Homo sapiens: one gene and its partners. The protein of the gene in region 1 purifies or fractionates together with the protein of each later gene. This does not show direct contact. Each region holds a gene or a part of one and is shown in the gene's direction. Other genes may lie near its edges. The genes, in order: NFATC2IP, ELF2 and ACTR6.

The links.
Region 2: the proteins of NFATC2IP (region 1) and ELF2 purify together in Homo sapiens (affinity purification with mass spectrometry; 2 studies listed by BioGRID and IntAct, with this or other methods). This does not show direct contact.
Region 3: the proteins of NFATC2IP (region 1) and ACTR6 purify together in Homo sapiens (affinity purification with mass spectrometry; 2 studies listed by BioGRID and IntAct, with this or other methods). This does not show direct contact.

Annotation. Positions count from the first base shown.
Region 1 is NC_000016.10:28,953,850-28,957,598, forward strand, and holds part of NFATC2IP (NFATC2-interacting protein), read left to right. Parts: exon of another isoform or gene 1-715; coding exon 716-833; exon of another isoform or gene 834-1,149; intron 1,150-2,128; coding exon 2,129-2,209; intron 2,210-2,301; coding exon 2,302-2,488; intron 2,489-3,749. UniProt on the Homo sapiens protein: In T-helper 2 (Th2) cells, regulates the magnitude of NFAT-driven transcription of a specific subset of cytokine genes, including IL3, IL4, IL5 and IL13, but not IL2.
Region 2 is NC_000004.12:139,072,609-139,076,357, reverse strand, and holds part of ELF2 (ETS-related transcription factor Elf-2), read left to right. Parts: intron 1-2,790; coding exon 2,791-2,904; intron 2,905-3,749. UniProt on the Homo sapiens protein: Isoform 1 transcriptionally activates the LYN and BLK promoters and acts synergistically with RUNX1 to transactivate the BLK promoter. Isoform 2 may function in repression of RUNX1-mediated transactivation.
Region 3 is NC_000012.12:100,199,120-100,202,868, forward strand, and holds the start of ACTR6 (actin-related protein 6), read left to right. Parts: upstream 1-1,695; 5' UTR 1,696-1,732; coding exon 1,733-1,800; exon of another isoform or gene 1,801-1,941; intron 1,942-3,749. UniProt on the Homo sapiens protein: Required for formation and/or maintenance of proper nucleolar structure and function. Plays a dual role in the regulation of ribosomal DNA (rDNA) transcription.

The DNA of each region.
Region 1 (3,749 bases):
CGAGGCTGCAGTGAGCCATGATCATGCCACTGCACTCCAACCTGGGTGACACAGTAGGACCTGGTCTCAAAAAAAAAAAAAGAAAAACGAAATGCAGAATCATAGGCCTCTTGCAGCTGCCATAGTTAGTTAGGACAGGATTTCATGACTTCAGCATTACTGGCATTTTTTGGACTGGAAAATTCTTTGGTGTTGGAAACTGTCCTGTGCATTGTAGAAAGTTTAGCGGCATCCTGACTTCCATCCCTGGGAAGTATTATACCTCAGCCCCCTCGCCCTCCACATTTTGATAACCAATATTGTCTCTAAACATTGCTATATGTCCCCGCAGAGGCAAAATTGTCCCTGGTTCAGAGCCACTGATCTAGGGTTTCTTATCATTTTTTAATTTTCACAGTATTTATTTTTGTGGTTTGTGATGATCTTTTATTGACAGCGGGCAAATAGAAATTTCTATATTATAGAAAATAATACCTGGTTTCCTTTCATGAGAAATTTAAGTTAATTTTAAGTTAATATGAGCTATCTTTATACTAAATAGCAGTCTCATCCCCTGCCCCCTTTCCCAATATTATCATGTGGCCCTGTGTGTGCCAGGGGCTCCGTGGTCTCCTCCTTTCCTAGGACCTTCTTGAAGCCTCTGACTTGTTTCTTCTTGGCCTTCGCTGGCCTCCCTTGGATAACCCCCTTCTACCTTCTCTTCCTCTGCCCCCAGAGGCAGAGCTGGCAGATTCGAGTGGTCTCTACCATGAGGGCTCCCCATCACCAGGCTCTCCCTGGAAGACAAAGCTGAGGACTAAGGATAAAGAAGAGAAGAAAAAGACAGAGTTTCTGTGAGTGAGGCCAGGGCCCTTGGGCCCTGGGAGCAGGAAGTGAGTTGGAGGGGTAAGCGGAGGCAGGCAGGACTCTTGGGTGACTCCTGAAAGGTTAAGAAGAAGGGATAGAAGGACTGTTGAGTTTCATGTGGGGAATGAATCGCTTGGGGAAAAGAGGTGGCTTACCCCGGAGGGTGACAGTGAACCCTTCAGGATCACCCTTGGGAGTGGATTCTGAGACCCTAGTAATGTGAGCTTAAGGTATGGTTCCAATCCAGCTTCCCTGTCCTCTCTGTGCTTCTCTTTCTTCATCTATAAAACCCCGTTTTATAGCCTGGGAAACATAGAGAGACCCTGTCTCTACAAAAAATAAAAAAAAATTAGCCTGGCATGGTGGCGCATGCCTGTGATCCCAGCTGCTCGGGAGGCTGAGATGGGAAAATCGCTTGATCCCAGGAGTTAGAGGCTGCAGTGAGCCATGATCGTGCCACTATACTCCAGCCTGGGTGACAGAGTGAGACCCTGTCTCTAAAAAGCAAACAAACAGACAGACAAAAAATACCCCCAAACCTGGGGATAATAGTGGCATTTGTGTCAATGAATTGCTGAGTCAATCAAGAGTTAACACTTGGCTAGGCACAATGGCTCTTGCCTGTAATCCCAGCACTTTGGGACGCCAAGGGGAGTGAATCACTTGAGCCCAGGAGTTCAAGACCAGCCTGGGCAACACTGGACATATGGTAAGTGCTTGCCGTCTGTCGGATATTATTGGACATTTTCCTGGGAAGTGACAGTCTCAAAAATGAGGCATTTTCTTCCCTAATATTCAGGTCATGTAAATATAAAAATGATGCCTCAGGCTTTCCCTCTCCCCTACCCCTGCCTTCCAGTGAAATGGGGGTTATTGGAAGCTGCTTCCTCTTTATTTTTTAAATGTATTTTTACATTTTTAGAGATAGGGCCTCACTCCATTGCCCAGGCTGGAGTGCAGTGGCGTGATCATAGCTTACTGCAGCCTCAAATTCCTGGGTTCAAGCGACCCTCCCACCTCAGCCTCCTGAGTAGCTGGGACTACAGCTGTGTTCTACTATGCCTGGCTAATTATGTAGAAATAGGGTCTCCCCATCTTGCCCAGCCTGGTCTTGGACTCCTGGGCTCGAGCGATCCTCCTGGCTCAGCCTCCAAAAGTGCTGGGATTACAGGTGTGAGCCATTGCGTCCGACTATGCTTGATTGTCCAAGGATCTGATTTCTAGGATTTGTGGGGCCAGTCTCTCTCCATTGCCTCCGTCCTGCTGTCTCTTGCTTCTACAGGGATCTGGACAACTCTCCTCTGTCCCCACCTTCACCAAGGACCAAAAGCAGAACGCATACTCGGGCACTCAAGAAGTTAAGGTGCCAAGTGCAGGGGCTCTGGCTGGGATGGAAGAGGGCAATCCGGGAGGGTGGCTGACTCCAGTTGACCCAGAGTCCTGTCTGCACTGCAGTGAGGTGAACAAGCGCCTCCAGGATCTCCGTTCCTGTCTGAGCCCCAAGCCACCTCAGGGTCAAGAGCAACAGGGCCAAGAGGATGAAGTGGTCTTGGTGGAAGGGCCCACCCTCCCAGAGACCCCCCGACTCTTCCCACTCAAAATCCGTTGCCGGGCTGACCTGGTCAGATTGCCCCTCAGGATGGTGAGTGCCTGAGGCCCATGGGAGAAGGACCCAGGAGCTGCTTCTGGAGAGATGGTGGTGTCCAGCAGGGGTGTCCTGGCAGAAGGGACTGTCATCCTTTTCCCATCCTGCTCTCTAGAGCTGCCCATCATTCTTTTCAGTCTGTCCTGCCTTCACACTTTTTGTTTCCTCTGTCTGCATTTTCCCAACGCTCCCCTCTCTTTCTGGCAAACTTTCTACCCATTCTTCAAGGCTCCTCATAAGCATCCTGTGTCTTTTTTTTTCCTTCAAAAAGTGGTCTTACTGTGTCCAGGCTGGTTCCGAACTCCTGGGCTCAAGTGATCGTCCCTCATTGACCTCCCAAAGTGCTGGGATTCCAGGTGTGAAGCATCCTGTCTTCTAAGAAGCTTTTTTTGGTAGTCTCTCTTGCCTTCCTCCCTAGGAACCTGGGCTTCCCTCCTGGGCTTGCTCTCACTGCCCTGGACACAGCAGATGTCACTCAGTCACCCTGAACTCCACCAGCTTCCTGGCGAAGCCTGATATTTTTGTAGGGATGACCCTGTTTCAACACCAGGAATGATAACAGACATTACCATTACTGATGCACAGTGCATCAGTCAAGCAACTAAGGCAGAGGCTGCAAACTGGCAGCCCATGGCTTTTCCAACAGTGTGTCTGCTTTCTTTGTAGACTTATTTTATTTTATTTTATTATTTTTTATTATTTTTATTTTTTGAGACGGGGTCTCACTCTGTCGCCTAGGCTGGAGTGCAGTGGCACGATCTCTGCTCACTGAAACCTCCGCCTCCCAGGTTCAGGCGATTCTCCCACCTCAGCCTCCCGAGTAGCTTGGACTACAGGTGCCCGCCACCATGCCCGACTAATTTATGTATTTTTAGTGGAGGCAGGGCTTCACCATATTGGCCAGGCTGGTCTTGAACTCCTGATCTCAAGTGTTCCCCTGTCTCAGCTTCCCAAAGTGTTGGGATTACAGGCATGAGCCACCGTGCCTGGCCTATTTTATTTTTTAAACATAGAGATGGGGGCCAGGCATGGTGGCTCATTCCTGTAATCCCAGCACTTTGGGAGGCCAAGGTGAGAGGATCACTTGAGGCCAGGAGTTCGAGACCAGCCTGGGCAAAATAGTGAGACCTTGTCTCTACTAAAAATAAAAAAATTAACCAGGCATGGTGGCACATACCTGTAGTCCCAGCGACTTGGGAGGCTGATGCAAGAGGATCTTCTGAGTCCAGGAGTTGGGGGCTGCAGTCAGCTGTGATCA
Region 2 (3,749 bases), on another chromosome or scaffold:
GTTTTCTTAAAGTTGAGCTACACAGGCTGATTGAATCCTTTGCTTCAGTGAAGCTGCAGATAAGAGTAAGCAGGGTCACCTAAAGATAGATTTACTTAGAGGTTTGGCTGCCTCTCTGGAACCATTTAGCTTTGAACAGATTTCCATAAATGGAAAGAGCAACTGGAGAGACCCAGTACCTTGTGGATGATGTGCAACAGGTGGTAAAACAGTCATTGGATTTTTAAAATAAATGCTTTCCAAATGACTGTTGTTTAAGACTGAGGCTTTAGCATTTAGGGAACTTTGAGATGAACTGGATTTTTTCCCCCAATTAAAAGTTTCCTGGAAACAATTTTAAAAGATTCATATCGTTAGTGTATAGTGCTTATGAATTTGTAATATGACTTTATGAAATTTGTATAAACATTTACTTTTAGTTCCTTTAGGGGACATCTTAAAAAAAATCTGTCAAGTTAGAGACTCTTAAATATTCATGTTTCAGAACGTCTTACTAAGTTAACTGTTCAACATTTTAAGTCAGGATGTGAAATTAATATATTATTAAGATAATAAAATTTGTTCTTGAATTGCTGATTTTCTTGTAAGGTCAGTGGGTTGTCCTTAATTCAGTACATAAAATAAATACCTGCCTGGCGTGATGGCTCATGCCTGTAATCCCAGCACTTTGAGAGGCCGAGGCGGGTGTATCACCTGAGGTCAGGAGTTCAAAACCAGCCTGGCCAACATGGTGAAACCCCGTCTCTACTAAAATACAAAAATTAATCCGGTATGGTGGCATGTGCCTGTAATCCCAGCTACTCAGGAGGCTGAGGCAGAAGAATCGCTTGAACCTGAGAGGTGGAGGTTGCAGTGAGCTAGATCATGCCACTGCACTCCAGCCTGGGCAACAGAGCGAGACTCCGTCTCAAAAAAAATAAAAATAAAAATCCGCATGTCTGCTCCATGAAAAGTCTATGTTGGGAACCATGGCATATGTAAAGATGGGTTAAGCTAGCCCCCCAGACCTCAAGAAGTTTATAATCTTACAGGAATGATAAGAAATTATCATATTCTTGCTCTATGAGAGAGATTAAGTTGCTTACCTCAGGTAACAGAAATAAGTGGCAGAGACTGGAACCCAAGCTGTTGGACCTGAAAGCCCAAACCACTGACTGCTGTACACATTGTTTTACAAGTAACATAATCAGCAAAGCATAAAGGAAGTGCTAGAAGAGGAGAGATACAAAGCGTGGTAGAATTTGAAGGCCTCATGGGAAGAATAAACTCTAAGAAAAAGTCTTAGGTTAAAACCCACTGAGGCTCTGAAGAGAGCGAGGTTAATTATAAAGAAAGTTCTCAAGTACTCTGGCAGTAAATATAATGCATGTTGTTATCCATCTTTAGTCACCTCTGCCTGGAGAGTACAGTTGTCCCTCAGTATACCTGGGGTATTGGTTCCAGGATGTCTCCTCCACCTGGCAGATACCAAAATCCTAGAATGCTCAGTCAAGTCCCTTATACAAAATGCTGTAGTATTTACACTGTATTTTTAATTGTTGTATTTTTTTTATTGCCTCCCCCTCCCCTGCAATATTTTCTTTTTGTTTTTTTTTTTTGAGACAGTGTCTCACTCTGTCGCCCAGGCTGGAGTGCAATGGTGTGATCTTGGCTCACTGCAACCTCCGCCTCCCAGGTTCAAGCGATTCTCCTGCCTCAGCCTCCTGAGTAGCTGGGACTACAGGTGCCCGCCACCACGCCCGGCTAATTTTTATGTTTTTGATAGAGATGGAGTTTCACCATGTTTGTCAGGATGGTCTCGATCTCTTGACCTCGTGATCCGCACGCCTTGGCCTCTCAAAGTGCTTACAGGTGTGAGCCACCACACCCGGCCCCCCTGCAATATTTTCAATCTGAGGTTGTTTGACTCTGCTGATGCGGAACCCTTGGACACGGAGGGCTTACTCTACTCAGTCATTCAAGAGGGTCTGTAAGAATTGAATTAATTGATTAAATTAGCGCAGCATGGTTCTGTTAGGTGCCCTGGCTTTAATGGCAATACATCAAAATATATAATTGCCCTCACAGGGTTTTTAATCTACAACCAGCCTCTCCCTGACCCTTCCTCCCTTCCCACAAGTTAGTATTGGCCTAAAATTGATGCAGGGTTCAAATTTCAAGGATCTTTCTTTGTTTTCCTTTGAGTAAGATTCAGAAACTTCTCAGTAATTTCTTTTGTTGTTGTTGTTTTGAGACAGAGTCTCACTCTGTCGCCCAGGCTGGAGCGCAGTGGTGCGATCTCAGCTCACTGCAACCTCTACCTCCTGGGTTCAAGCGATTCTCCAGCCTCAGCCTCTTGAGTAGCTGGGATTACAGGCATGTGCCACCACGCTCAGCTAATTTTTCTATTTTTTGGTAGAGACGGGGTTTCACCATGTTGGTCAGGCTGGTCTTCAACTCCTGACCAAGGTCTACCCTCCTTGGCCTCCCAGAGTGCTGGGATTACAGGCATGAACCACCATGCCTGGCCAACTTCTCAGTAATTTCTAATCAATGTCATTGGTTACTTCATAATCAATATTCATTTTATATCAGTATTCATTTTATAAAATGTAGATATTAGCTTTTTAAAAATTATTTCTGTAATTTATATAGACGAATAGATATCAATGGCTTAGAGTTAGTCATGTTATTTTATATTTATTTATTTTTCATTTCTCTTTCAGGAGTGAATATGTTTATTTCTTAGTAATATGTTTTAGTCATGTGTTTAGTGTATTTTTAATTGAGTAGAACTTATTTTTCCTCCAGTGGAAGCATCAGTTCACAGCAGTAATGCACACTGTACAGATAAGACAATTGAAGCTGCTGAAGCCCTGCTTCATATGGAATCTCCTACCTGCTTGAGGGATTCAAGAAGTCCTGGTATGTAAACTGTTCATTCTTATGTTAAACGTGTCATACTACTTCATATGTCTAAAATAAAGTTTTTTGTTTTTTTAATCCAATGGAATTGTTGGGAATTCTCAAAGGTACATTACACATGAATACATGACAGCAGTAATTGAACTTTATTTGTCAAGGCCTCCAAGTCTTAAATACTTAATTTTCATAACAAATGATACAGAAAATACCCACTATAGATAGACAAATATTTATTAAATAGCTATTTGTACTGTCATGTCTATTTCCTTAACTCTGGGCAAGTTATAAGCCTTCATAGTCCTTCAGAGTATGATAGATGGGAGCAGTTGCCTGTTAGGACCACTTTCAATCCTTTATTCAATGATAAATAGGCAGTAACTCCAGAGAACCACACATGGTAGAGAGACAAGGGAGCTTTTGACATTTTTTTCACACATCCTTCAGTGTGAGTTTTTATTTTTTTGTGGTCCCTCTTAGTCTTTAAGAAAAACTTTGATAGTCATTTTGTCCAATCCTGATTTGTCCTAATTTTAATTTAATGCCCAAATGTTAATTTGACTTGATACAAAAATACTGGCTCACCTTCTCATTGGGATTCACAATAAGAGCAACCATACTTCTTAATTTGAATAGAATCCTGTGTATTACTCAGAGATATGAGAATAAATTTGTAGCATTTTTGGTCAGTCTATTAATCTAAGATAGTATGTATTAATTGTATCTCTTAATTGAAATAGAAATGTCATATCTTGGTTATTTGTGCACATTAGAAGGAAGCCAGAGCAACATTACTGTATGTACTAGAATACCAGATAACAATTTGTACCTACTGTTTTAGTGACTAA
Region 3 (3,749 bases), on another chromosome or scaffold:
TTAACTGATGTACCAAGGTCCTAGCAGAGTTCTAAAGGAGGCCCCTGGGGCAGAAGCCTACGGTTATGAATGCTTGGGAGGGCTGCACCGGACATCCACGGGATGCTGGGGGTGAGAAGACACTAGAGAGGGGTCAGAGGGAAGGAGCAGAGGGAGATAATGGGTCAAAGTGTCTGAGGAAGGAGACTGGGCTGGGTAGCCCCAGCCACCCGGGCCTAAGCCCAGGTGGAGGGGAGGAGATAGGAACGAGGACGGGATGTGGAGAAGTGGGGAAAGGCAGGCCGACGTTGGCAGGGTGCGAGGAGGCCTTGGAGAAAGGAGGGTGGATGGGGCAGGCCCCCAGGGGAGGCAAGGAGCGCCGACAGAAGGGCCCAGGCGCTTGCAGGGCGCGAGTTCCCACCTCAAGCACCGTGGCGGCTCCCGCGCTGCGCACCTGGAAGTGCGCAGGCTGCTCCGCCGCCTCGTCGGCGCGCTGGTAGCTGAAGCAGGCTTCTGCTATGTCCAGGTGGCCGAGGGGCAGCGGGTCGTGGGGGTTCTTGAAGTAGCAGAGGCAGCAGCGGCGCCCGTCCAACACGAACCGACGGCTGCGGTAGCCACGCAGTCGCGCTGGTTCCCGCGCGGTACCCGCCCCGGGCTCTGCAGCCTCCCCATCGCCGTCGCTGCCCTCCTCTGCCCGGGTTCCGGCCCCGGTATGGCTGCCTGCGCGCCAACCGTTTGTTCCCCGGCCCCCGCGCCTTCGCGCTGCGGCTGCTGCGCTCCCTGCCCCCGCGGTGCCCCCTTCCCGCCGCCCCGCTCCTCTCTCAGGCGCTCAAAGTGGCCTGGAATTTGTAGAACGCCCCCCTCCAAGCCCGTTGGCAGTTGTCCTAGCCCGCTGGCCCTTGCCCCCGCCCGCTGGCCGTTGCCCCCGCGACGCCCCGGAAGCCAGGTCCTGCCTCCCGCACCTGCCAAGTCCCCGCCCTGCCGGAGTCTCGCTCTGTCGCCCAGGCTGGAGTGTAGTGGAGCCATCTCGGCTCACTGCAACCTCCGCCTCCCCGGTTCAAGCAATTCTCCCGCCTCAGCCTCCCGAGTACTTGGGATTACAGGCGCCCGCCACCTCGCCCGGCTACTTTTTGTATTTTTAATAGAGACGGGGTTTCGCCGTGTTGGTCAGGCTGGTCTCAAGCTCCTGACCTCAAGTGATCTGCTTGCCTTGGTCTCCTAAAGTGCTGGGATTACAGGCGTGAGCCACCGCGTCCGGCCCAAAAGCCTTTTTTGGATGAGAAAGACTCACTCAGCTTCGTCCTGAAGAGCAAGTGGGCTGGGGAAGAGGAGAGTATGAATGTGAGTCCAAGAGCAAGTTTTGCACTTTTTTCTTCAAAGAATGTCACCGTCTGAAGAATGCGATTGGAAGACACACACACACACACACACACACACACACACGCAGCCGGTTCTCTACAGGATTAGAAAAAACTTGCGCGAATTAATCTGCGTAGTTAAAAACAAATACGAAATGAGCGAGAAAGCACATAGTAGTCAAATCTCGCCACCACATAAACAGGTTAAGTTTGGAAGCACAGCCCCTAACATTCGGTGCTGCTTAGCATCTCCGACTTCCGGCGTCCTCCGTTGCTAAGGTGACCAGAGGCGCGTCCTAACGCTCCGCCCAACAAACCATAGAGTACCGGAAAAAGCTCGAGCAGAGGGGTCGGAAAGGGAAAACAACTACGGCTGCGGTGTGGTTGGTGGTGAGATGACGACCTTAGTGCTGGATAATGGAGCTTACAACGCCAAAATCGGTTACAGCCATGAAAATGTGTCGTAAGTACTTTCTTTCTCCGAGGGACAAGATATATACGCCTAGTGGTTTCATGTGCTACGTTTCATCTCCGGACATCAATGAACTGCAGACACCCCCGCGCGGCCCTGACTTAGCCAGAGGGATTCCCTGGTTGGAGCTGGGTGGGTGATTGTGATGCTTTGAATTGAAATTGATTTTGGTTTTAGTTTTGGGCTGCGAGGCCCCGGAAGTGGGATATATGTTTTATTTCGTAACAGGAAATAGCCAAAGAAAATAGGCTTATAGAGATGCGTTCCTGACAGAAGGGTCCGTAAAGTTCATCAGCCTTTGGAAACTATGGGCACGGTGTTTGGGTGTATGCGGATTTTCCTGGGTACAAGATTATAGGTTTCATTAGATTCTCAAAGGGTTCTATGACCCTCCAAAAGTCTAAAAATCACGGTCTTAGGATCTAGAGGCTTTGAAGACTTTGGCCTACTGGCCGACCTAGTTGGTAAGGTCAATTAAACAGAAGTACTGTTAATACAATGGCATTCATAACATGTATAGTCATAAAATATATGTTTGAATAAATAAGCAAACCTAAAGACACGCCTTTCCTTTATCAAATTAACAGAGCATTAAAAAAAATTCTTTCCTTCCTCCCTCCTTTCCTTCTTTTTCATTTCTTTTGAAACAGAAATGAAAGAGGGAAATCAAACTGAGTAGGAATGTAAATTGTTACAATCTTTCTGGAAAACGTTTTGGCAATGTGTATCATTATCATTGTCACCGAGGCTGGAGTGCCGTGGTGCGATCTCAGCTCACTGCAGCCTGAATTCAAGTGATTCTCCCGCCTCAGCCTCCAGAGTAGCTGGGATTATAGGCGTGCACCACCACTCCCAGCGAATTTTTTGTATTTTTGTTAGAGACGGGGTTTCATCATGTTGGCCAGGCCGGTCTCGAGCCCCTGGCCTCAAGCAGTCTACCCGCGTTGGCCTCCCAAAGTGCTGGTATTAGGGGCGTGAGCCCTACACCCAGCTGACAAAGCAATTTTTTTTTTTTTTTTTGGAGAGGGAGTCTGGCTCTCTTGTCCAGGCTGGAGTGCAGTGGCACGATCTCGGCTCGCTGCAACCTCTGCCTCCCGGGTTCAAGCCATTCTCATGCCTCAGCCTCCCAAGTAGCTGGGACTACAGTTGCGCACCACCACGCCTGGCTAAGTTTTGTATTTTTAGTAGAGACGGGGGTTTCACCATTTTGGCCATGCTGGTCTGGAATTCCTGACCTCGTGATCTGCCTGCTTCAGCCTCCTAAAGTGCTGGGATTACAGGTGTGAGCCACCGCACCGGGCCATGACACAGCAATTCTGTTATTACCTAGAGAATTAATTAGAAGTGCTTTGTATTATTCATAGTCATCGTATACAGGCAGCCAAAAAATGGGAAGGAAGCTAAATAATCAGGAATAGCATATTGGCTAAATACACCAAAATACAACCTGAGACTGATAACAAATTCAAGCTTCTTAAAATTATGTCTTCAAAGAACATTTAAACATGTAGAGAAAATGCTGACAGTATTATAAGTGAAATAAGCAGGTGTAAAACATTTTTTTACAGTATTATCCCAGTGTCATCTCGTATACACATACAGACACATTTGTATGCATACATGTGTGTATAATTAATAATGGCTCTAGTTTGTCTTCCAAACCAGATTGTAAGCTCATGGCAAGCAGCAAGAGGCCCAGGTGGGTGGATCACGAGGTTAGGAGATCCAGAGCATCATGGCTAACACGGCGAAACCCTGTCTCTACTAAAAATACAAAAATTAGCCGGGCGTAGTGGCAGGCGCCTGTAGTCCCAGCTACCTGGGAGGCTGAGGCGGGAGAATGGCGTGGGCCTGGGAGGCGGAGCTTGCAGTGAGCCGAGATCACGCCACTGCACTCCAGCCTGGGGCGACAAAGCGAGACTCGGTCTCAAAAAAAAAAA